Homo sapiens: one gene and its partners. The protein of the gene in region 3 purifies or fractionates together with the protein of the main gene of each other region. This does not show direct contact. Each region holds a gene or a part of one and is shown on either strand. Other genes may lie near its edges.

Region 1 (7,643 bases), on a different chromosome or scaffold from region 3:
ACAATCTCAAAACTAGCTTCCTGCCCCTTACTTCTTTTTGGTTTAGTGTATCCTAATATGGCTGCCACTCCTCAAACCATTCCCCTGCTCAAAAACTTCAAATGTTACCTTTCATAATTAATAAATTCCTCATATTGACACTCACAAAAAGTCAAATCATGACTTCATCCCCCAGAAATGTATAGCGCTTTAATAAAACAGAATAATTAACAGTTTCCTGAACATTTTCTGAATGTCAGAGCATACAGCTTCATTTGATGGCTTTCTCATCTTGGAATACCATCCCCTCTCCACCTGTCAAAATCCTATCTCTCTTCTCTGGTTTATTTCACATTCAACCAACTTTACCAAAAGCTTTCCTGGGCCTTCTTCTCTAGTTTGAGCCCCACAGCACATTTTATGTTTTTGATACTACTTATTCAAATCCATGATACACTTAACCTTTATGTACTAGTTTAATCTTGTGATTAACTATATCTTCCTTAAGGCTAGGATATTCTGCTTTAACAGCTTTCGATTCTATAATGCCCGATACAGTATTGTGCACATGAAAGTTCAATAAAAAGCCACTGAATTGACTGAAATTGCATTTTTACAGGAGTTTTAAGAATATTGGAGTTAGGGAGGTATAAATGGTCTATGCTGTTTGCTCATCAACTGGCTCAGTAACTCTTTTCATATCAAACAAAATGGAAGCCATCCTCTTCCCTTCAGTGCCTACTACCTCAACTCACATGTTAATGCTGCTTTAAAACTAGGCAATAAGGTTGTCATTCACCAATTTTAGGAAGTTCACTTGTGAAGGCAGGTTATCTTTCCTGGTAGCCACAAGCAGTATCAACTAGTCAGCTTGCCAAGCAGTCTTGCCACTATTAGCCTTCTGTGCTGCTGTGGAGACCACTGCTACTCCTACACTGAAAGAAACCAAAGTTTGTTCCCTGCATCCCCTGCGGATAAGAAAACTGGCAGACAGAAGATGATGCAGACAAAAGCATGTAGTGGCTAAAAACACAGTGGATACCACTACTGTCCCTGTTGGGGATGTGGGATGGGGGAACAGCAGTCAGTGTTTAGGCACTAGCTACCAACTTTGGCCTGAGTTTTTACTATATCTCAAGTTGCAGAGATATGTGAGGTAGAGAGATATACAGAAAGAGAAATATTAGCACTCAACTCTACTTGTGAAGTCCATGCCATAAGACACTATCTTAAGTAAAACTGCATAAAAAGCAAGATCCTCTAAGTAATTCTAAGATAACCCTCCTAAACCCAAGAGTGACTTTGCTAAATTCCATTTAAGTTACATTCCTTTCAAGAAAAAGAACACTGCTGCCACTATTCAAAATGTGATGTTCTGTTAAGCTAAACTGCATAAATATTTTGATTAACAGTATTAACTTCTGAAAATTAAACATACCTTTAGAGACCGAACTGAATCATCAGCCAGACCAATCACATTAACATAAAGGAGATTGCTGTGCTTCAGAAATAGAACACAGTGATCCTTAAACATGTCCAAGTCTATCACTTTTGTATTTCTCTTCATTGTAAAAAATAAATCCCAATTCATAATTGCAGGGGTATCAGCCGCTGTTCTCATTAGCTACGTGGAACAAAGTTAGAAGACATATAGGTAAGAAAACACGAAGGCTGCAGCATCCAGAGATGCAATCACTGAGAACTAGACCATACTAGTCCTCACTGTTTTATGAAGAGCTGAAGGAACTAACGCTGCATCAGGGATAAAGTGTGACCATCAACCATATGAATGAGTCCTGACTAGCCTGCTGGGTGGTGAGACAGTATATCCAGTGCTTAGCCAACCACTGGACATTTGAGTGAGGGCACTGACAGCTAGCTGACTACAGATACATCAGTGAGCTTAGCTGATATCAGCAGAAGAACTGCCTAGCTGAGATCAATCCAAATTGCCAACTCATAAAATCACGAGTTTGTAAGTTTGCTCTTTTAAGCTACTAAGTTTGATTTTGTTAACATAAACTCAGGACAGAATATGTTTTATTTACTAACTTTTTAGGCACAATTAAAATATGTAGAGGCATTAGCTCTAAGGGAAAAGAAATGGGATTGGTTATACATAGGAAGGTGGCATCAATTTATAAAACAATGAGCTCTTGGAGCAAGAAATGTTGTTGATCGAAGTGTGACACTTCTTAACAGCCCAAATAGGAACAACGAGCATCCAGGATTACCTTAAATTCTGTAGGTTCTCCAACATTAGTGAGAATGTATAATTCATCATCTCTGTGTTCAACATAGTAAAGGACCCCATGTATTCGCTTCTGGATAAGTACTGGTGGGTCCCAAGGGCTCAGGCCATCTATCAACCACACTTCAGAAGTAGTCTTGTTCATAATATTTATGGTGAGGAAACGACTGTCTTTTGTAAGATAAAGGAAAACAAAGTAGCTAGAGAGAGAGAGAGAGACATGAGATCACAGTTTATTTCAGATGCATGCTACCTTGTTAAGGACAGTATCTCAGAGGTGGTCAGTATACATGTTGATTTATAATGCAGATAGGAAATTAAAATAATTCCTTAGTGAATATCACTTGTAACTTTAACAATTAGCTATTATTTTTCTCATTTTCTCCTAAAGGGCATTCAAAATAATTTACTTCTAACATTTTATCATAAATGTTTTTCAAAAATACAGAAAAGTTGAAAAAACCATCTTGATTCCATCATTGCTAACATTTTGCTACATTTACTTTATTACATATCTATGCACCTATTAATCCATCTTTATTTGGATGCATTTCAAGGTAAACTACAAACGTCATTTCTCAATCACATGAGTAGATAACATAGCTTTTTGCTGAGAAGAGGAAATAAACTTTCTATAGGAGACACAAATAGGGAATAAAAGGGACACGGAGTTATTTTTATTTTCTTCTTTCTCTGCATGCATTTTGGATTTTTTTTTCCTTTCTCCCAGTTTTTACAACAAAATAGAATAGGAAGAAAACCCCTCACAATCTTACTAACGTAACACATTTAAAACATTAACATAGCTATTTTACTTTTTAAATTTTTCCTTCTAAGTTATATTTATATTTCATGTGTGTCTTTAAATAGATGTAATTATAGATACAATTTTTGATTCTGTATTTCTTACTTCATATATCAATTTTCTCCCTACATGAGTTGAAAGTCTTTGTGATTATTATTTTTAAAGGCTACCTAATATTATAACAGGTTTAATGGCTACCTAATATATCATAATTCTTAAAAATTTAGATTTTAATGTTTCATTATAATAAACAATATAACAAGAAACATATTCATGAAGATATTTTCCCCTTCCATGATCTTCACAATTATTTTCCCAAGACAAATTTTTAGAAATGGAAATACTAATTTAATAAGTGTATTTTTATGACTTGATGAATATAATCAAATAATATCCTAGAAGCACTATACTAACATAATGAGTGGCTTTAAATGTTATATTTATATTTTTCCTTATTATAAAAGTAATTTATACTGAAACTACTGAAAAACGTAAAGAATCCCAATGCCCCCAAATAACAACTGCTTATAGTTTGGTAAAATTTCTTCTGTATTGGATCACATTACCATGTTTATTTGTCAATCGTTATTTCTTTTGTGAAATGTGTGTCTATTTTAAACTTTGAATGTAGCTTAAATTATTAGTATGTAAATAGCTCTTTAAAAATTAAGAATATTGGCTGGGCACAGTGGCTCACAACTGTAATCCCAGCACTCTGGGAGGCCAAAGCTGGCAGATCACCTGAGATCAGGAGTTCAAGACCACCCTGGCCAACATGGTGAAACCCCGTCTCCACAAAAAATACAAAAATTAGCCAGGCATGGTGGCAGGTGCCTGTAATCCCAGCTACTTGGGAGGCTGAGGTAGAAGAATCACTTGAACCTGGGACGCAGAGGTTGCAGTGAGCTGAGATTGCGCCACTGCACTCCAGTCTGGGTGACAGAGTGAGACTCTGTTTCAAAAAAAAAAAAAAAAAATTAAGAACATTAACTTGTCTTTTTGTTGAAAACACTTTCCTCCATTTTGTTACCTAGATTTTAACTATTTACAATAGTTTTTGTGGTTTTTGACTTGAGTTTAATATTTTACGTAATCGAGACTGCTACTACCCTTTGTAATTTCTTATATTGATTTTATGTTTCAAAAATATTCCAACCAAGCTGACTAAAAAGCTTATATTTTCATCTTATTAAAAAATTATTTTTCTCAATGGGTTCTTTAAATCTCTTAGGAATGTATGCTGACATATACAATGATGAAAATTATTTTTTCCCAAATAGTATTTCCCATTGCATTATAAAATAACACCGATTCATTTTTCATTAGTTTGTGATGCCTTTTATCATATAAATTTTCACATAGACTAGGATCTATGTTTTAGAGTTATTCTAAGCTCTATTATTTGTCTATCAATTTGTATTATTTTTACTGTTATTGCTTTATATGCTTTAATATATAATTGTAGGGCAAGTCCCCTACCCTACTTTGCTCTTTATTTTCAACACTTTCTTCGCTGTTTTTATATATTTTTGTTTGCTTAGTTTGGTGATGACAAATTAAAAATAAACTACTTGACCAAATAGTTGTTAGATATGTGGTTACAGGAAGTGAGAACACAAGTGGCTCTAGGGTAAAATGTGTCTAAGAGAATATACGAAATATAAAGAACTAGACATTAATCTTTTTTTCCAATTATTTCTATCGACAATTATTTTTAAATTTAAAATGTATTATAAAAATAATAATGCTTATTACAAAAAGAAAAAAAGAAAAGTAAAAAAAAAACCATTGTTAGTACTTTGGGTGTATTTCCTTTCAATCTTTTAAAAATGCATCTTTTTTCCTTGATACCCAATTGAAACCATAGCATATATTTAATTTTTTCACCTAGCACAATAATACATTTTTGAGTTAGTTTTAATTTATAATTTAGTAGCAACACATACTTTAAATTCTTCTATATATTACTAAGAATTTAATGGTTAAAAGGTACTCAACAATCATCAGGAACAAGGGGTTTTAGTTTGAAAGAGAGATACCTATCTAAGTATATACCATTTATTTAAGCAATAGATACTGACTAAATAGCACTATACAAACCTGGCACCCTGCTTATCAATTAAGATGCAAAGGTGAAACAGACTCAGTCTGTTCACAATCTAGCAGTTCTAGGTCATCTTTATGAATTTACATGAATGAACTATGTTGTAATTCACAAAATCAATTTCAGTTTTTAATAAAATATTAGTGATATATCTGTATTTACTCTGATTTTGAATATTACCAGACTCCAATTTTGAATACAAACAACTAATAAAAGAATGATCGTTTTAGCCTTATTATTCCTGGTTCCAACCAAAATAAACGTTTTAAGTCAACCAAAGTCAGTACTTTAAATAACTGGAGGAAGGTTCTGGAGAGAAAGATTTAATTATATTATTCTAGTACCTTGGGTCTTTTTCTGTGTAAAAGCGTTCATTACGTTTGTTATCACCAAAAGTGGCTCGATATACGTCATGACAGCGAAGGTTCCTCTGGAAGGTGTAGAATAAAACATCTTCATCTTCCTCGTCCTTTACCCATTCTGAAAGAAAATAATGAGATAATTATACATAATCACCTACACTCCATTAAAAAAAAAAAAAAAGCACAGCACATTCTAATTTTGAATGCCAGTGAGAACATGTGCAAGTTTATCCCTGGAAATCTAAATATTTGACTGTATCTAATCTGTGCTGTATATAAGCCAGAGAGCTTTCCTGAGAATAAACCACTACTACACCATTCCAAGGTTTCAAGTAGTTATCAGTCTCAGGGTACTCAGGTTTCTAAATAAGAGCTAAATGCTCAATATTTAGGAAAGACATTGGTAAAGTCACATTTGCTTTTAGGAGGTGAATTCCGTCTCAATCTACAACTTGAAACTGTAAGTCTGAAGGAATATTGCATCTTTCTCTCATGTGTAAACCTTCTCTGTCTGCTTTCAAGCCACAGGATATCTCCAACTACCAAACACAATTTAATGCTGATTCTTGATCCCACCAGAAGCTGTCAACAGAAGTTTGCACACAATTACACCATGACTGCCACCTGGCTGACAGTGATTGTAAGTCATCATTGTATAATATGCACCATGATTTTAAAGGTTATAAAATGTACAAAATATATGTCTTAGAATTCAATAGTTAGGGTATAATTTCAATTCACTGCAACAACATTTAGTTAAACAATGGAGAAAATGATGGCTGAAAATGAAAAGGGAGGACAAAATGTAACATATGTACCACTCAATGATAAATTTAAAGTTAGTTCTATTACTAAAAATGTCACAGCTTCCATTGATAAACAGGTTAGTTCAACACATACCAAGTTCTTTGGTAGTGACTTTATGCTGTAACAGCTCTATAAGATAACATGAAATTAAAAAAATACATTCAAGCTTAAAGTTGAATAAAATATTAAGATGCAACTTACGTGTAAAAATTTATTCTAGATAATAATTTGGCAAATAATTCTGATAAATCAAAACATATTGTATGACATGGACTCTAATTATAACACTTTTAAAAACATGAGTATTTTAAAATTACCCATCTAGATATATAATTAAATAAGGGAAGGTCTCCTGAATAAGAGGTACATAGGAAGATGTATAGTCCATAGGGATACATGAATCAGGCATTCACCTTCTCCCTCCCTCACATGCGACAAAAAAATGTTTCAAAAGTGTTACCGTTGCCTTTCAACACAGAGGACTATTTTGGTTGGTGGCTTACCAAAACTGGACACATTCGGGAAAGAAGCTTCCATTACGGGCTGATCGCTGAGCTTTATAATTACACAGGTAGATGCTTCAGAATCTTCAGTTCTTATCTTGGCAGCCACATATTTTTCATCTGGAGCAACTCTGATACAATCAATGAAGGGCTGGTCTAACTTAAGTTCCTCCAAATTGAATAAAACTTCATAATTATCATTGTCTGCTGTATAAAGAAAAATACGAAAGTGATAACTTCAAAGGATGTACTTTAAAAAATTAAAACTGTATTTTAATGTTTTAAATTAGAATTCCCATTCTGTAAGAGGCCATATCCTAGCTTCTTTCAACAATGATGGCAGCTTAACTTGCACATCAACTGACAATAAGTTATTTAATATTACCTTATACTATTCAATACTATTCTGTGCATCAACCTATGAGACATTATTTGATATTGTTATAGTCTAGTTTAGTATTTACAGACCATACAGAACCTAGAAAGTAAGTGAATATAAATGACAATCAACAATATATGCCAAGTGCCTAGCATAGTACCCAAGACACAGCAGATGCTCAAAAAATGCTGGATGCCGTCTCCATTCTCCCTGCCAAAGCTTCTGAGTCTAACTATATCTTACACAAACCCAGATATTAAAAACTAGTCATTAAAAAAAAATTCAGAAATAATCTTTAAAAAAATCTTTTCTCTATCTTTGAGAAATTAATAAATTTCCTATAAAAAATATGAAATCTGAAAATTAGAGCACGTAAAAAGAAAAATTGTGGTGTACCTTCTTCATCTTTGGAACGAACCAAGCAACAACCTTCTTGGTAATAAACAAAACCAC
Region 2 (7,643 bases), on a different chromosome or scaffold from region 3:
TCGCTGACTCTTCGGACTCAACCTGCCTGCACCCAGGTGATTAAAAAGCTTTATTGCTCACACAAAGCCTGTTTGGTGGTCTTTTCACACGGATGCGCATGAAAATTACCAAAGTTCGCACAGCAACCAGAAGAAAGGTGGAGCAGGAAAGTCTGTTTATACAAAGAGCTGAAAGTTTCAACCTTAGGCCACAAAAGTTGACATGGATCGGAAGGAACTTTTATAAGAAGCTCTAAACAGTTAATTTGATAACTAAAACTCTTAAGACAATCTTCCAATACAAACATGAGTATTCAATCACAAAGATTAACATGAAATTCAAAAGGGAGTTTTGAGGGAAAATGAAGAGATAGAAACCACTGTTATGGCTGGGCAAGGTGGCTAACACCTGTAATCCCAGCACTTTGGCAGGCTGAGGTGGGAGGATCACTTGAGCCCAGGAGTTCAAGGCTACAGTGAGCCATGATCACACCACTGCTCTCCAGCCTGGGCAACACAGTGAGACCCTGTCTCTAAAACCAGTAAAATAAAATAAAAACCACTGTTATGTAGAATACTCAGTGTTGGTCCATGAGTAAAATTTCAAATTCAATTTAGAGGACCTTAATTTTTTTTTTTGAAGATTTTACATTGATAAGTCACATTTACGGACTCACCTCTCAAAAAAATGTTAGGTTTTTATATTTTACGGTTTTCAGTATAGCCGTAATCATTCAAGTTTAACCACTTTACTTCATTTGAATTAAAAAGTCAATGTAGTATTTTAATATTAAGACATTTAGTATTTTCAGAAAGTATTCCTTATAAAAGACTTGCTCAACTGACAACTTATAGTTAGAATAAATGACTCTTTAACCACTTTTTCCCCCATAGACAAAATGAAGTAAAATCTCAGGGAACTAACAGAGGACTTTATTTCTGAGGAAAGAGGAGCAGCTATGGCTTGAGACTGCTAACCCTACTCCAAACACACAAAAGCAGCTACCTCTCTCCTGGCCCAAATGCACACACAGGATGACTTAGCATTTCTAGAAGGAAGCTTTGTAAGATGACTGGTGCAACAGGCTATGAGGCAAACCCTTCCTGTTAGAGGGGGAGAGGGCAGCTGGAAGACTTCCCTGTTAGTTCACAAATAATGATGGCTCCCAGCAGGGGGTGGGCCCAGCCACCCTGGGGGAAGAGGTATATGGATCCACAGGAGGAGAGTAGGATTCTGAGATCCTAATACTTACACATATACTTGAGTCCGTGATGAATAAATTGCTCCTAGCTATTGGCCCCTCCCTCCTCACCTATGTTATGGCTCAGATCGGCTAAAAGCAGCCAACTTCCTTCTATACAGCACGGAACTGTAGAAACCACCGACTTTCCTCCTTACTCTGCCTTACACCACACAGTTCAATAGGGCGAGGCACAATGAACAGGGAGGTCAAAAGGGGAGAAGAGTCAAGGGAGAGAAAGGCAACCTGTATCCAGAGGAGCAAACAGGAAAAATTCTGTTTTATTATTTTTGAGATGCTTCTTTTTTTTTTTTTAGGCGGAGTCTTGCTCGGTCGCCCAGCCTGGAGTGCAGTGGTGCGATCTCAGCCCACTGCAAATTCCGCCTCCCAGGTTCAAGTGATTCTCCTGCCTCAGCCTCCTGAGTAGCTGGGATTACAGGCACGGGTCACTATGCCTGGCTAACTTTCGTATTTTTAGTAGAGATGGGGTTTCGCCATGTTGGTCAGGCTGGACTCAAACTCCTGACCTCGTGATCCGCCCACCTCGGTCACCCAAAGTGCTGGGATTACAGGCGTGAGCCACCGCGCCTGGCCCAATTCTGTTTTAATATAGTGAGAACAATCTGCCAGAAGCAAAGATCAGCCTCTCATTAACCACGAGAGGCATCCTTCGTTCTCCTTTTTCATTCCTGCCAGAAGTCTATGTATTTTACTCTTAGAACCACCTTTGCTGGGCATGGTGGCTCACGCCTGCAATCCCAGCACTTTTGGAAGCCGAGGCGGGCAGATCCCCTGAGGTTAGGAGTTCGAGACCAGCCTGACCAATATGGTAAAACCCCGTCTCCACTAATAACACACAAAAATTAGCCAGGCATGGTAGCGCATGCCTGTAATCCCAGCTACTCGGGAGGCTGAGGCAGGAGAATCACTTGAACCCGGGAGGTGGAGGTTGCAGTGACCCGAGATCATGCCACTGAACTCCAGCCTGGGTGACAGAGCACAACACCGTCTCAAAAAACAAACAAACACACTGAAAACCACCCCCCCGGCCAAGATTTTGATATTGTTAATCCCCTCTCGTTTTATGTTTATTTCTTTATATTATTTCCTTATCTTTCTGAGTTTGATGCTTAGCTCACTAATGTAAGATATAAAACAAGTGGGCAGGATACACACCAACTTCAGGATAGTGGCTTTCTTCTAAAAGAGGAAGGAGAAGGAACTTAGCAAAACAACGAGGACTCAAATGGATAGGTAATTTTTATCTTTTTAATATCTAGGGGAAAAAAGTAAATTTTTAATAATTTCTGAGTACACAAGCATATGTTATTCGCAAACTTTTTTTGGAGGGGATGGAGTCTCATTCTGTTGCCCAGGCTGGAGTGCAGTGGCATGATCTTGGCTCACTGCAACCTCTGCCTCCTGGGTTCAAGCGATTCTCATGGCTCAACCTCCTGAGTAGCTGGGATTACAGGCACCTGCTAATTTTTTTTTTTTTTTGAGACGAAGTCTCGCTCTGTCACCCAGGCTGGAGTGCAGTGGTGCCATCTCAGCTCACTGCAAACTCTGCCTCCCAGGTTCAAGCAATTCTCCTGCCTCAGCCTCCTGAGTGGCTGGGACTACAGGCACGTGCCACCACACCTGGCTAATTTTTTGTATTTTTAGTAGAAACAGGGTTTCATCATGTTAGCCAGGATGGTCTCAATCTCCTGACCTCATGATCCACCCGCCTCGGCCTCCCAAAGTGCTGGCATTACAGGCGTGAACCACTGTGCCCGGCCCTGTTATTCATGAACTTTTCTATGAAAAATTTTACTCAAGTTACCTGCCTCATAAATAAAATCTTAGATCACTGACTACAATTACATCACTAATGCTAAAATATTCCAAAGATAAAACTGGATAGGAAGGACAGTCACTTCTGAATTTACCTCACAGTTTGTACGAATGAGATAAGAACTACAAGGAAGAGAATCAAAAGCAGCGTCAGCCTCTCTCACACTGTCAGTTTCTTCAACGCAAGAAAGAGCAAAAGGCACTCTGAAAGCTAAAGAGGGCTGAAGAGATTCTCTAAAGACCAGTCTGTATCTGTCCTCCAGACATCAAGATCAGAATAGTGGACGAAAGGGCCCATGTGAAAAGCATAACATTACCAATGAGGGTGACGGGTACGCCGTATTCCAGGGCGGAGATGGCGGTCCACTTCCCTGTGCCCTTCTGCCCCGCGCTGTCCCTGATCTTTGGCAGCAGGTGTTTGCCATCGGTGTCTTGGAACTTGAGAATATTGGCTGTGATTTCAATCAGGAATGAGTCTAGCTCTGTCTTATTCCAATCCTCAAAGGCCTACATGCAGAACACAGGAGAGAACCATGTTAGAGGAATGAGGGCTGAGCAAGGAAGCCCCTTGTCCAATGTCCACGCTGACCAATGCTCACGGTTGCCAGCAGGCTCTGCTCGCGTCTGCCTGGGGACTTCTGCTCCTGCTGGTTGAGTTTTATGCTAACCCAGAGTCAGTTGTGTTTGTTCTGAACCTGGTTATACTGAATTTCTGGCCACCAGAAGTGTTGTCTCCTCAGAGGCAAGGGCTCCTCACTTCACTTAGGTCTCTGTGCAGTGTCGCCTCCTCAGAAGCCTTCTGCAATCACCGGATCTTGTCCCAGTTTACTCTTCGTTCTCACAGTCATCGCTAACTAGTTTGATATTGTATATTTATTTCTGTCTGTCTTCCCAGCTCCGGGAGGGCAGGCACTTTGCTTTCTTCACTAGTATATCCCCAGCATTTAGAATCATGCTTGGCATATAGTAAAGCACTCGTGTGTTTGCTGAGTGAACACGTTAAGTATTATATATACCAATAAAAAATGAACACAAAAAGAATAGCACTGTTTCTGTGAAAGAAAACTAAGGTAATGTTTTAGAAAGAACAATTAACAGCAATCCAGTGAAACAAACAATAGTCAAAGTAAGTGAGGATGACATGAATAAAAAACTAGGAGGAAAACAACAAAAAATCTGGAAAGCTATACTGTATGCCTTGCTAGAGTCTGTAAATCACATCCCATTGGAAATAACTGAAACTAGAAATTCTAGATGGTAAGACACGACTAGAAAGCGCATCAGCAAACCATACTTAACGAGAAGGCCTTGGCCCTCCAAAAAATGGCGGGTGAATGAAAGTCCTTTCCTATGTTTTCAGTTAAAATCTATGTTTACCTCATGATAAAGATACATTCATCTAAAGTATTTAGGGAAAACAAAAGTATGGATACCTGCAGTTTACTTTGAATGTATCCAAAAAATAAGATGAAATTGGTGGGGGATGGACAGACATTGCTAAAGCAAGTACAGGAACCTGTGGATGGGAGAAAGGAGGAGGTGTGTATCCAGGTGTTCACTGTAAAACTCTCAAACTTCTGTGCTGCATGGTTGAATATTGTCATAATAAAATGTTGGGGGAAATGCTTCAGCTTCCCTACTTGGACTGACTTTTCAGATTAACTATCAAAAAGCCAATCCCAACTTGATCAGGAAAGAAAGCTTCTGCTGCATCTGCCATGTGGGACAACTGTGGGAGTAAATGGGACAGGTATGTGGAGTGACACAGTGCCTGACACCAGGTAAGCTACGCTAAATGGTGGTGATGATAACCACCCAGACTCTGTGGGGACTTTCTGCTTAGTGACTGACTAGCATAGTGTATAGGCCTATTACTAACAGTTTCCCTCAAATTAGGCTGAGTCCATGCAGGCCACCCGAATGGCCAAGGGGATAGGAATGAAGAAAAGATTCGGTGTCTGTGGCAAAGTGAGCACTCCCTGCAGAACGGACACAGAGGCAGTGCCGGGGCCTCACCTGGGCCATCTCGTCCTGCGCCATGCCCAGCACGTCTTTCATCAGGTGGTATGCCTCACAGATCAGCTGCATGTCCCCATACTCTATCCCGTTGTGCACCATCTTCACGAAGTGGCCTGCTCCCTCATCTCCCACCTGTCAGGACAACAAGCACCAAGAGGCCTTCAGAGAAACAGGCGACACATCAGAGAAGTCCACATCAGCTTTCATGCCAACATCCCTGGCAAGGCTACCTCTCCACACAAAAAATAACAAGTATAAAATGAGTACAGCATTTTTGATACAAGAATCATATAGCAATTCAAAGCAAGCTTCAGTCCAGTACAATATTATTTAACACTAATTCTAGACTCATTCTTCTCAAGGTTTCTCAAAGTCCCTGAATTCACTTTCAATACTTATGGCTCTCTAGCCTGTATTTTCTACTCTTTCTCATCATTCAAAGCAACTCCCCACCTTCCCAGCCCCCACCCACAAGAAAAAAAGTCCTCTTTTTCCCAAAGTTACCACTTTTCTAGCAACTAGAGGTTAAAATATATTGGCCAATTAAATCACTTGTTTTTTTTCAAAATATAAATGTATTGTAGTTGTTCCTAATGGCTACTGAAAAGTAAAATGACCCTAGATCCAAGGTCTCAACCTTGTAAGCCCAGAAAGGAGTCCCTCCAAGGCCCCATCATTATATTTATATTTATATTTATATTTATAAATAAAGACCAGATCTTTATTTATAAGCTGGCAAGATGTATAAAATCAGAATACCCGTTAATGAATGTAGGATGAAAACCTTAACTATGGATCTTCGTGGTTACAAATGTTAGTCCGGTCAACACATTCTGGCCCTATAGACAAGCAACTGGGAAGCCAGATTATCCGAAAATTATTTAGTTGTCAAGAACTGGAACAAAGGGAGTGACGAGAGCCAAACAGTTCATGGCATCAAACTCTCAGTCATCTACACCCAGCTCCATGACAGGGACACACCTGCCCAGGAGGCCAGGTGTTTGGATGACCTGGGCAGTCTCTCTCCTGGCTGTCACCACCTGGACCGTCAGTTGTATAACTGACGCTCACATCAGGACTCCATTGTCCGTGTTTCTTTTTTTTTTTTGAAACGGAGTCTCGCTCTGTCGCCCAGGCTGGAGTGCAGCGGTGTGATCTTGGCTCAGCACAACACCTGCCTCCTGGGTTCAAGCAATTCTAACGCCTCAGCCTCCTGATGAGCTGGGATTACAGGAGCACACCGCCACACTCAGCTAATTTTTGTAGACATGGAGTTTCACCATGTTGGCCAGGCTGGTCTCAAACTCCTGACCTCAGGTGATCCACTCACCTCAGCCTCTCACAGTGCTGGGATTCCAGGCATGAGCCACCACGCCTGGCCTTGTCCATGTTTCTATTGCTGCCCCTGCTGACTTCTGATTTTGACACTCTGGCCACAGAGTAACATGGCTGCTAACATCTTACTTCACCTTACCCTTCCTGCCACTTCAGCCATGAACTAAGGAGGGCCTGCTTGATCAACACACGTAGGGGCAAGGACTGTGCTTCTCTTCATGACTTTGTCCTAAGTGTGTGTATCTAAAAAAAAGTTGCAGGCTGGGTGCGGTGGCTCACGCCTATAATCCCAACACTTTGGGAGGCCAAGGTGGGCCGATTACTTGAAGTCAGGAGTTTAAGACCAGCTTGGGCAACATGGTGAAACCCCATCTCTACCAAAAATACAAAAATTAGCCAGGCATGGTGGCACATGCCTGTAATCCCAGCTACAATGGAGGCTGAGGCATGAGAATCGCTTGAACCCAGGAGGCGGAAGTTGCAGTGAGCTGAGATTATGCCACTGCACTCCAGCCTGGACGATAAAGCAAGACTGTCTCAAAAAAAAAAAAAAAAAAAAAAAAAAGTTGCTACCACTCACTTTTATTGCAGTGATCTTTTTGTTTTTTTCTGTTTAAGAGACAGGGTCTCTCTCTGTTACCCAGGCCAGAGTGCAGTAGTATGATCACTGCTCACTGCAGCCTTGAACTCGTGGGCTCAAGGGATCCTCCCAAAATACTGGATTATAAGCACGAGCCACTACACCCGGCCTTTTACCGCAGTAATCTACTGTCAGGGAACAGAGGTCCCTTTCCAATCCTTCACACTAATGAGAAGATTACTCAGCTCTTTACGTCAGTCCCAGCACCAGCCTCTTTCTACCCTAAGCAGATTCTGACTGAGCTCAATGGCCAACCACTGGTGAAAAGGTAAGGACAAGTGAGCTGCTGTGGCCAAAGCCACCAAGCACTGGCAGGCCTAGGAGGGAGGGCTTCCCGGATTCCTCAAAGGCCTGAGTCCTTATTTCAACCTCAGCATTGATTTCATATAAAATAAAATTGAATAATAAAATTCACATTAAAATTGCTGATATAAAATTAAAGGGAATCAGGAGCTGAAGAGAGCTTGGAGATCATGTAATCCAACCCCATATCTTACAGATAAGGAAACTGAAGTCCATGAAGGGACGTGGCTTGCCTGATGTCACAGTTAAGTTTATGGAAAGCCAGAACTGCCACTCAGGTCTCCTGAGCC
Region 3 (7,643 bases):
GTGGTGGGTGTCTGTAGTCCCAGCTACTCGGGAGGCTGAGGCAGGAGAATCACTTGAACCCGGGAGGCGGAGGTTGCAGTGAGCCGAAATCGCGCCACTGCGCTCCAGCCTGGGCGACAAGAGCAAAACTCTGTCTCCAAAAAAAAAAAAAAAAAAGCAATATCATTAGTTTATGTTGTCCATGACCAGCACACTGTTTCATGCAGTAGAGTATGCCCTCTTACTGAAAGTTTCCTGGCAGAGGTTTAGAGAGAACCTTTTGTCAGGAATTTTTAGAGGTAGTTCTTATAGAGTGAGTGGTTGACCTCAGACAACCCTAAGGCACCTTCTAGTTTGGAGATTCTTTTATTCTAATACTAGGCAATATACTCCAGCACATAGAAGAAGGATTTTAGTTCTCAACATATGTTTCTAGCATTGTGAAGCATCAGAGAACAAGAAAGTTGTCTAACCAGAATGGCTTTACATCACAGTGTAGCAGGACGAGCCACAGTCAAAACTCCTCAGACACTGGATTAAAGAAGGAAGAGGCTTTATTTGGCTTGGAGCATCCACCAACTTGCGTCTTAAGAGCCGAGCTCCCTCAAAAAGAAATTCTTGGCCCTTTTAAGGGCTTACAACTCTAAGGGGTCCACCTGAAAGGATGGTGATAGATCAAGCAAGTGTGGGGAACGTGACTGGGGGCTACATGCATTAGCTTACAGAGCAGAAAGTTTTGCAATGCTTTTTCATACAATGTCTGGAAATTACAGATAACACAAGTAGTTTAGGTCAGGGATTGATATTATTATTATTATTATTATTATTATTATTATTATTATTATTTTAACTACCAGGGCCGGGTGGTGGCACCAGGCCATCTGGCTATTTATCTTACTTCTGTTTCTTTTTAACTTTTTGCTTTTTTCTTTTCCTCCTGTTTTATAAACTAGGCAAGGGGGGCGGGGTGCGCAGGAGAAGTGGTGGTCTTCTTCCTTAACAGCATGCAGTGCAGTTCTTGGTACCTGCATGTAGGTAAAGATCAAACTGTCAAACTGGTAGTCCTTAAGACTCTGCTTCCATGGGTATGACTTGTTCTAGGTATTATTGCCTAACAGAAATTTCCATTATCTAATTTTAAATTGTGTAAGGTTTCACAGTGAGATTATTCGAAGCATTTAGAGGTATTTACTAACCTGTGATGGCTTACAAATCTCTTCTTGTTGCAATAGGTGTGTTTGTAGTTGCTGCTAAGCGAACGCCCTTTGGAGCTTACGGAGGCCTTCTGAAAGACTTCACTGCTACTGACTTGTCTGAATTTGCTGCCAAGGCTGCCTTGTCTGCTGGCAAAGTCTCACCTGAAACAGTTGACAGTGTGATTATGGGCAATGTCCTGCAGGTTAGTAGAGTAAAGGAAGGTGTTCACTCCTATTGCTTCTTTGATCAGTTTCTAAAAATAATTCCTTTAACATATCATAATGGTAAACAAGTTAATAATAGTTATAGACTTTTTTTTTTTTTTTTTGAGATGGAGTCTCGCTCTGCCGCCAGGCTGGAGTATGGTGGTGCGATCTTGGCTCGCTGCAACTTCCGCCTCCCGGGTTCAAGCAATTCTCCTGCCTCAGCCTCCCGAGTAGCTGGGATTACAGGCGTGTGCCACCAAGCCCAGCTAATTTTTGTGTTTTTAATAGAGACAGGGTTTTACCACATTGGCCAGGATGGTCTCGATCTCTTGACCTCGTGATTCTCCTGTCTCGGCCCCCCAAAGTGCTGGGATGACAGGCGTGAGCCACCACTCCCAGCCAATAGTTACAGACTTTATACGTTTGTAATTTGAGTAATTCTGTGACTCCAGAATCAACAGCATGCATAATTCAAAGCATCATATGTTCTAGAAACTGTATGTCTGACTTGGGATGCATTTCAGTGCTTCCTAAATAGCAGATTGACTTCCTTGGCTTACTTGAAGTTAATTGATCTTCTCTATATGCCACCTTAGTAAACCCAAGCCATTACAGCACACCTCCCCTAATTTTCTTACACATTGTAGGAGCTTGATCAGTGTTTGTTGTAAGAAATAAGATGCTTCCTTACCCTCTGTCTTGCTATGTGTGATGTACAAAATCAATCATTCATATGCAGGTAATTGAAAATTCAGAATTCCTTTAAAGTATACAAACATTTGTTGGATACCTAGTTAGAGGCTATTATAGGTGCTATGGCACCCAAGGTGGACCAAAAGGAGGTAATAATCTAATGAAAAAGATAAGATATATATATATATATATATATATATATATGATCAGTTTCTGTGATATATCTTATGTATCATATATACACACACAAATATATATATGATACATATATTTAAAGATGTCAATGATGTGATCATTGCTAAAGGAAAGAGAATGACAATGGACACAGAAGTCACTAGGCCTTGCATTTGAACTTGATGCTGTTCATCTTGCCGTTGTGTATCTTCACATCCAGAAAAAGCAGTGACTTTTTTCCTTTGGCAGTTATGTCTGTTGAACCTAAAATATTTTCATAAAGAATTCTCAATATTGTCTTTTGTTCTTTTTATTTTATTTTGTAACTTTTACCTCTGACCTAAGAAGGCATTAGAACAGATTGAATAGAAATTGGATACTTCCGTTTTTTGCGTTTTCTAGAATTTTGAAGGAAAAATATTTTTTTCCCAGCATGTATTCTCTCAAACTTTATAACACAAAGTCACTATAAATAGTATCAGTTTCATTGTGTTTGTGCCTCTGTTCCTAAAGACAGTTTTTCTTGTGTTAAGTTTTCTGTCAGGCCAAGATAGAGTTTTCTTGTAAGGATGTTAAGTGCTTAACATAAATATTTGGGGTTAGGCCTTTATGGTTAAGAGAGAACAGAATATGCTTCGAATAACATTTGACAAATACCACAAAGCTGCTTTTCTAATTGAGTTTTATATTATTAAATATCACTTGGAATAAATGAGTTTTACTTATTTCATAGGAAACAATGAAATCCAATGTGGATTCTTTTTATTTCTTTTTCTTCCCTAATTGCCCTGGCTAGAATCTCCAATGTTGAATAGAAGTTATAAGAAATGGATATCTTTGTCTTATTCCTGATTATAGGGGGAAAGCATCTGGCCTTTCAACTTTACATATGATGATAGCTGTGGATTTTTTTTTTTTTTTTTTTATTGATCATTCTTGGGTGTTTCTCGCAGAGGGGGATTTGGCCCACAGGACAATAGTGGAGGGAAGGTCAGCAGACAAACAAGTGAACAAAGGTCTCTGGTTTTCCTAGGCAGAGGACCCTGCGGCCTTCTGCAGTGTTTGTGTCCCTGGGTACTTGAGATTAGGGAGTGGTGATGACTCTTAACAAGCATGCTGCCTTTCAAGCATCTGTTTAACAAAGCACATCTTGCACCGCCCTTAATCCATTTAACCTTGAGTGGACACAGCACATGTTTCAGAGAGCACGGGGTTGGGGGTAAGGTCACAGATCAACAGGATCCCAAGGCAGAAGAATTTTTCTTAGTACAAAACAAAATGAAAAGTCTCCCATGTCTACTTCTTTCCACACAGACACGGCAACCATCCGATTTCTCAATCCCTTCCCCACCTTTCCCCCCTTTCTACTCCACAAAACCGCCACGGTCATCATGGCCCGTTCTCCATGAGCTGCTGGGCACACCTCCCAGACGGGGTGGTGGCCGGGCAGAGGGGCTCCTCACTTCCCAGTAGGGGCAGCCGGGCAGAGGCGCCCCTCACCTCCCGGACGGGGCGGCTGGCCGGGCGGGGGGCTGACCCCCCCACCTCCCTCCCTCCCGGACGGGGCGGCTGGCCGGGCGGGGGGCTGACCCCCCCACCTCCCGGACGGGGCGGCTGGCCGGGCGGGGGGCTGACCCCCCACCTCCCTCCCAGACGGGGTGGCTGGCCGGCCGGGGGCTGACCCCCACCTCCCTCCCGGACGGGGCGGCTGGCCTGGTGGGGGCTGACCCCCACCTCCCTCCCGGATGGCGTGGTTGCCGGGCGGAGACGCTCCTCACTTCCCAGACAGGGTGGCTGCCAGGCGGAGGGGCTCCTCACTTCTCAGATGGGGTGGCTGCCGGGCGGAGGGGCTCCTCACTTAGACGGGGCGGTTGCCGGGCAGAGGGTCTCCTCACTTCTCAGATGGGGCAGCCGGGCAGAGACGCTCCTCACCTCCCAGATGGGGTCGCGGCCGGGCAGAGGCGCTCCCCACATCCCAGATGATGGGCGGCCGGGCAGAGACGCTCCTCACCTCCTAGACGGGATGGCGGCTGGGAAGAGGCGCCCCTCACTTCCTAGATGGGATGGCGGCCAGGCAGAGACGCTCCTCACTTTCCAGACTGGGCAGCCAGGCAGAGGGGCTCCCCACATCCCAGACGATGGGTGGCCAGGCAGAGACGCTCCTCACTTCCCAGACGGGGTGGCAGCCGGGCAGAGGCTGCAATCTCGGCACTTTGGGAGGCCAAGGCAGGCGGCTGGGAGGTGGAGGTTGTAGCGAGCAGAGATCACGCCACTGCACTCCAGCCTGGGCACTATTGAGCACTGAGTGAACAAGACTCCGTCCGCAATCCCAGCACCCCGGGAGGCCGAGGCTGGCGGATCACTCGCGGTTAGGAGCTGGAGACCAGCCAGGCCAACACAGCGAAACCCCGTCTCCACCAAAAAAATACGAAAACCAGTCAGGCGTGGCGGCGCGTGCCTGCAATCGCAGGCACTCAGCAGGCTGAGGCAGGAGAATCAGGCAGGGAGGTTGCAGTGAGCCGAGATGGCAGCAGTACAGTCCAGCTTCAGCTAGGCATCAGAGGGAGACCGTGGGGAGAGGGGGAGGAGGAGGGGGAGAGGGAGAGCTGTGGATTTTTTATAGATTCCCTTTGTCAGATTGAGAAAGTTGCCATCTGTTCCTAGTTTGTTCAGTGTTTTTGTCATGAAAGGGTGTTGTATTTTGTCAAATACTTTTTCTGTTGACTTTTTGTGTTGAAATCCACATTGGATTTCATTGTTTCCTAAGAAATAAGTAAAACTCATTTATTCCAAGTGATATTTAATAATATTAAACTCAATTAGAAAAGCAGCTTTGTGGTATTTGTCAAATGTTATTCGAAGCATATTCTGTTCTCTCTTAACCATAAAGGCCTAACCCCAAATATTTATCTGTTAATAATTTACACGAGATGATCGTGTAAATTTTTTTTATTCTGTTGATATGTGATATTTGACAAACCTTGGCAAAAGAATATCCATTGGCCAAGAATTTTTTTAATGACATTAATTTGTAAAATAAGATAATTTCATCTCAGTCAACAGATGAAACATTTAGTTAGTAGATTAATTGATGTTATACTGAGTTCCTCCCAGTTCCATCTGCATTCAAAACCCTTAACTTATAAATGTGCCGAATTTGTCAAGTTTTGAAAAACTTGAAACCTACACAAAAGTTAAAAGAATAGTACAATGAACATCCTAAAACCCCGTACCTTGATAGACCAATGTTTTACATTTTGTCAAACTTGCTTTTGCTCTTGCTAACAGCCTCCAAAACAGGCTGTTAATGTTTTTGGTTGTTGTTGGTTTTTTTTTTTTAAGTCATTCTTTTTATTCAAAGTGTGGTTCTTGGACTAGCAACATCAGCTTCACCAGGGAAATGGTTAGAAATGCAGAATCTCCGGCAGACCTAGACCTGTTGATTCAGAACTTACATTTTATTATAACAAGACGCCCCCATATGCATTTTAAAGTTTTGGGAGTGGTGGTCTACTCCTACCTCTTACTCTCCTGACCAATCATTCATCTGTCTTCTCCCTAAGTATGCAGTCCTCAGCCTGTTTTACATTAGAATTACTTGGGATGCTTTTTAAAAGTGACTACTGATGCCCAGGCCCCACCTCCAGCCTTTCTGGTTTAATTGATTTGCTTAGGAACTTAAGCATGAGTATGTTAATAAAGCTTCCTAGGTTATTCCAGCCTGCAACCAAGGTTGAGAACCACAGCCTCCGATACTTCCTCTGTTAAGGAGCATACTACTTTAGGATAGCGTATTCCATTTTTAAATAACTCTAATTGTTATAAATTTCTGTCTTATATTAAGGACTTAATGGGATTTCTCTAAGTAGCAATTATCTTTAATATATTTGAAAACCAATTGACTGTGGTTACACAACATTATGAATGTATTTAAATAATACCATTGAACTATACACTTAAAAATGGTTACAATGATACATTTTGTTATGTGTATTTTGCCCCAATAAAAAAATAGAAAAAAACCCAATTGACTGTAGTTTTTATTCAAATTGTAAACACATATTAGATATAATATGCTGTACTTAGATGCATTTTGTCCTACCTTAGAGCCATATAGTTTATCATTTTTGATAGATTGCCAACATTTCCATGTATTTCGTGCTTGTTCTTAATTAGTAGATTTATAGAGAAAATTATTTTTCTTTTCCTTCTCTCTTCTAGAGTTCTTCAGATGCTATATATTTGGCAAGGCATGTTGGTTTGCGTGTGGGAATCCCAAAGGAGACCCCAGCTCTCACGATTAATAGGCTCTGTGGTTCTGGTTTTCAGTCCATTGTGAATGGATGTCAGGTATGGACAACATTTTTTTAAATTCTCTGAAAATATGTTAATAGTTACTAGAAGAAATGTCCCACTGCAATATAACACTTTAGCTTTAGGGAGGATTGCTTGAGCCCTGGAGGTCAAGTAAACCATGATCATACCACTGCACTCCAGCCATGGGCAACAGAGTGAGACCTTGGCTCCAAAAAAAAGAAAAAAAAAAAAAAGCTAATAATGAACCTGAAAGTGGAATAAGCCTGTCATAAAAGGACAAATACTGTATGTTTCTACTTCTTTGAGATACCTAGCGTAGTCAAATTCATAGAGACAGAAAGTAGAATGGTGTTCCCAGGGACTGGTGAGGGAAAGTTAGTGTTTAATGGATATGGAGTTTCAGTTTTGCAAGATGAAAAGCGTTCTGGAGATGGGTGATGGTAATGGTTGCATCACACTATGAATACACTTAAACTACTGAGCTGTATACTTAAAAATGGTTAAAATGGTAAGTATTATATATATATATATACTTCAATATTTTTAAAAGCTAGTATGTTCATCATTCTTTCGAGTGCTTCCTACATGCTAGGCACCCTGCTAGATTTACATTCAATATCTCATTTAATCTTACAACCATCCTATGAAGCAAGAACTATTATTATTATTCCCATTTTACAGGCAAGGAAACTGATTAAAGCCATTAAGGTTACTCAGTCATAGAATTTGAACCCAGGTCTGTGAGTGTTACCTGTGAGGCACTGAATAAAGACCGTGAGGCAAGCAGGAAATCTCAAGAATTTAGGAGAGGATAAGGAAATGTATTTTATTTCAAAGGAAGTGAATGATGCTGTTAGTAGAAGTACAAACTAGTTTGACCTTTTTAAAGGACAGTTGGTTAAATACATTTGTTTCTTTGAGCACAGAGAAGAAAGTGAAATCCAATTTCATTTGTAAAAGTCTTCATTTTATTACAAACAAAATAAGAGCCAGAGGCGTATTTTAATAAAACAATTTTCACATTAATTTGTTTCTATAACGATATATCTTAAATAGTGACCTCGGTTTTCCTAGTAA

Evidence for each region. Proteins that work in one complex are often made in the same cells at the same time.
Region 1: the proteins of ACAA2 (region 3) and PREPL purify together in Homo sapiens (affinity purification with mass spectrometry; 3 studies listed by BioGRID and IntAct, with this or other methods). This does not show direct contact.
Region 2: the proteins of ACAA2 (region 3) and PGD fractionate together in Homo sapiens (co-fractionation; 3 studies listed by BioGRID). This does not show direct contact.

The regions. Positions count from the first base shown.
Region 1 is NC_000002.12:44,336,934-44,344,576, forward strand, and holds part of PREPL (prolyl endopeptidase-like), read right to left. Parts: coding exon 7,587-7,643; intron 7,019-7,586; coding exon 6,812-7,018; intron 5,620-6,811; coding exon 5,484-5,619; intron 2,431-5,483; coding exon 2,214-2,430; intron 1,604-2,213; coding exon 1,418-1,603; intron 1-1,417. UniProt on the Homo sapiens protein: Serine peptidase whose precise substrate specificity remains unclear. Does not cleave peptides after a arginine or lysine residue. Regulates trans-Golgi network morphology and sorting by regulating the membrane binding of the AP-1 complex.
Region 2 is NC_000001.11:10,408,982-10,416,624, reverse strand, and holds part of PGD (6-phosphogluconate dehydrogenase, decarboxylating), read right to left. Parts: intron 5,208-7,643; coding exon 5,073-5,207; intron 3,564-5,072; coding exon 3,374-3,563; intron 1-3,373. UniProt on the Homo sapiens protein: Catalyzes the oxidative decarboxylation of 6-phosphogluconate to ribulose 5-phosphate and CO(2), with concomitant reduction of NADP to NADPH.
Region 3 is NC_000018.10:49,796,422-49,804,064, reverse strand, and holds part of ACAA2 (3-ketoacyl-CoA thiolase, mitochondrial), read left to right. Parts: intron 1-1,211; coding exon 1,212-1,378; intron 1,379-6,470; coding exon 6,471-6,599; intron 6,600-7,643. UniProt on the Homo sapiens protein: In the production of energy from fats, this is one of the enzymes that catalyzes the last step of the mitochondrial beta-oxidation pathway, an aerobic process breaking down fatty acids into acetyl-CoA.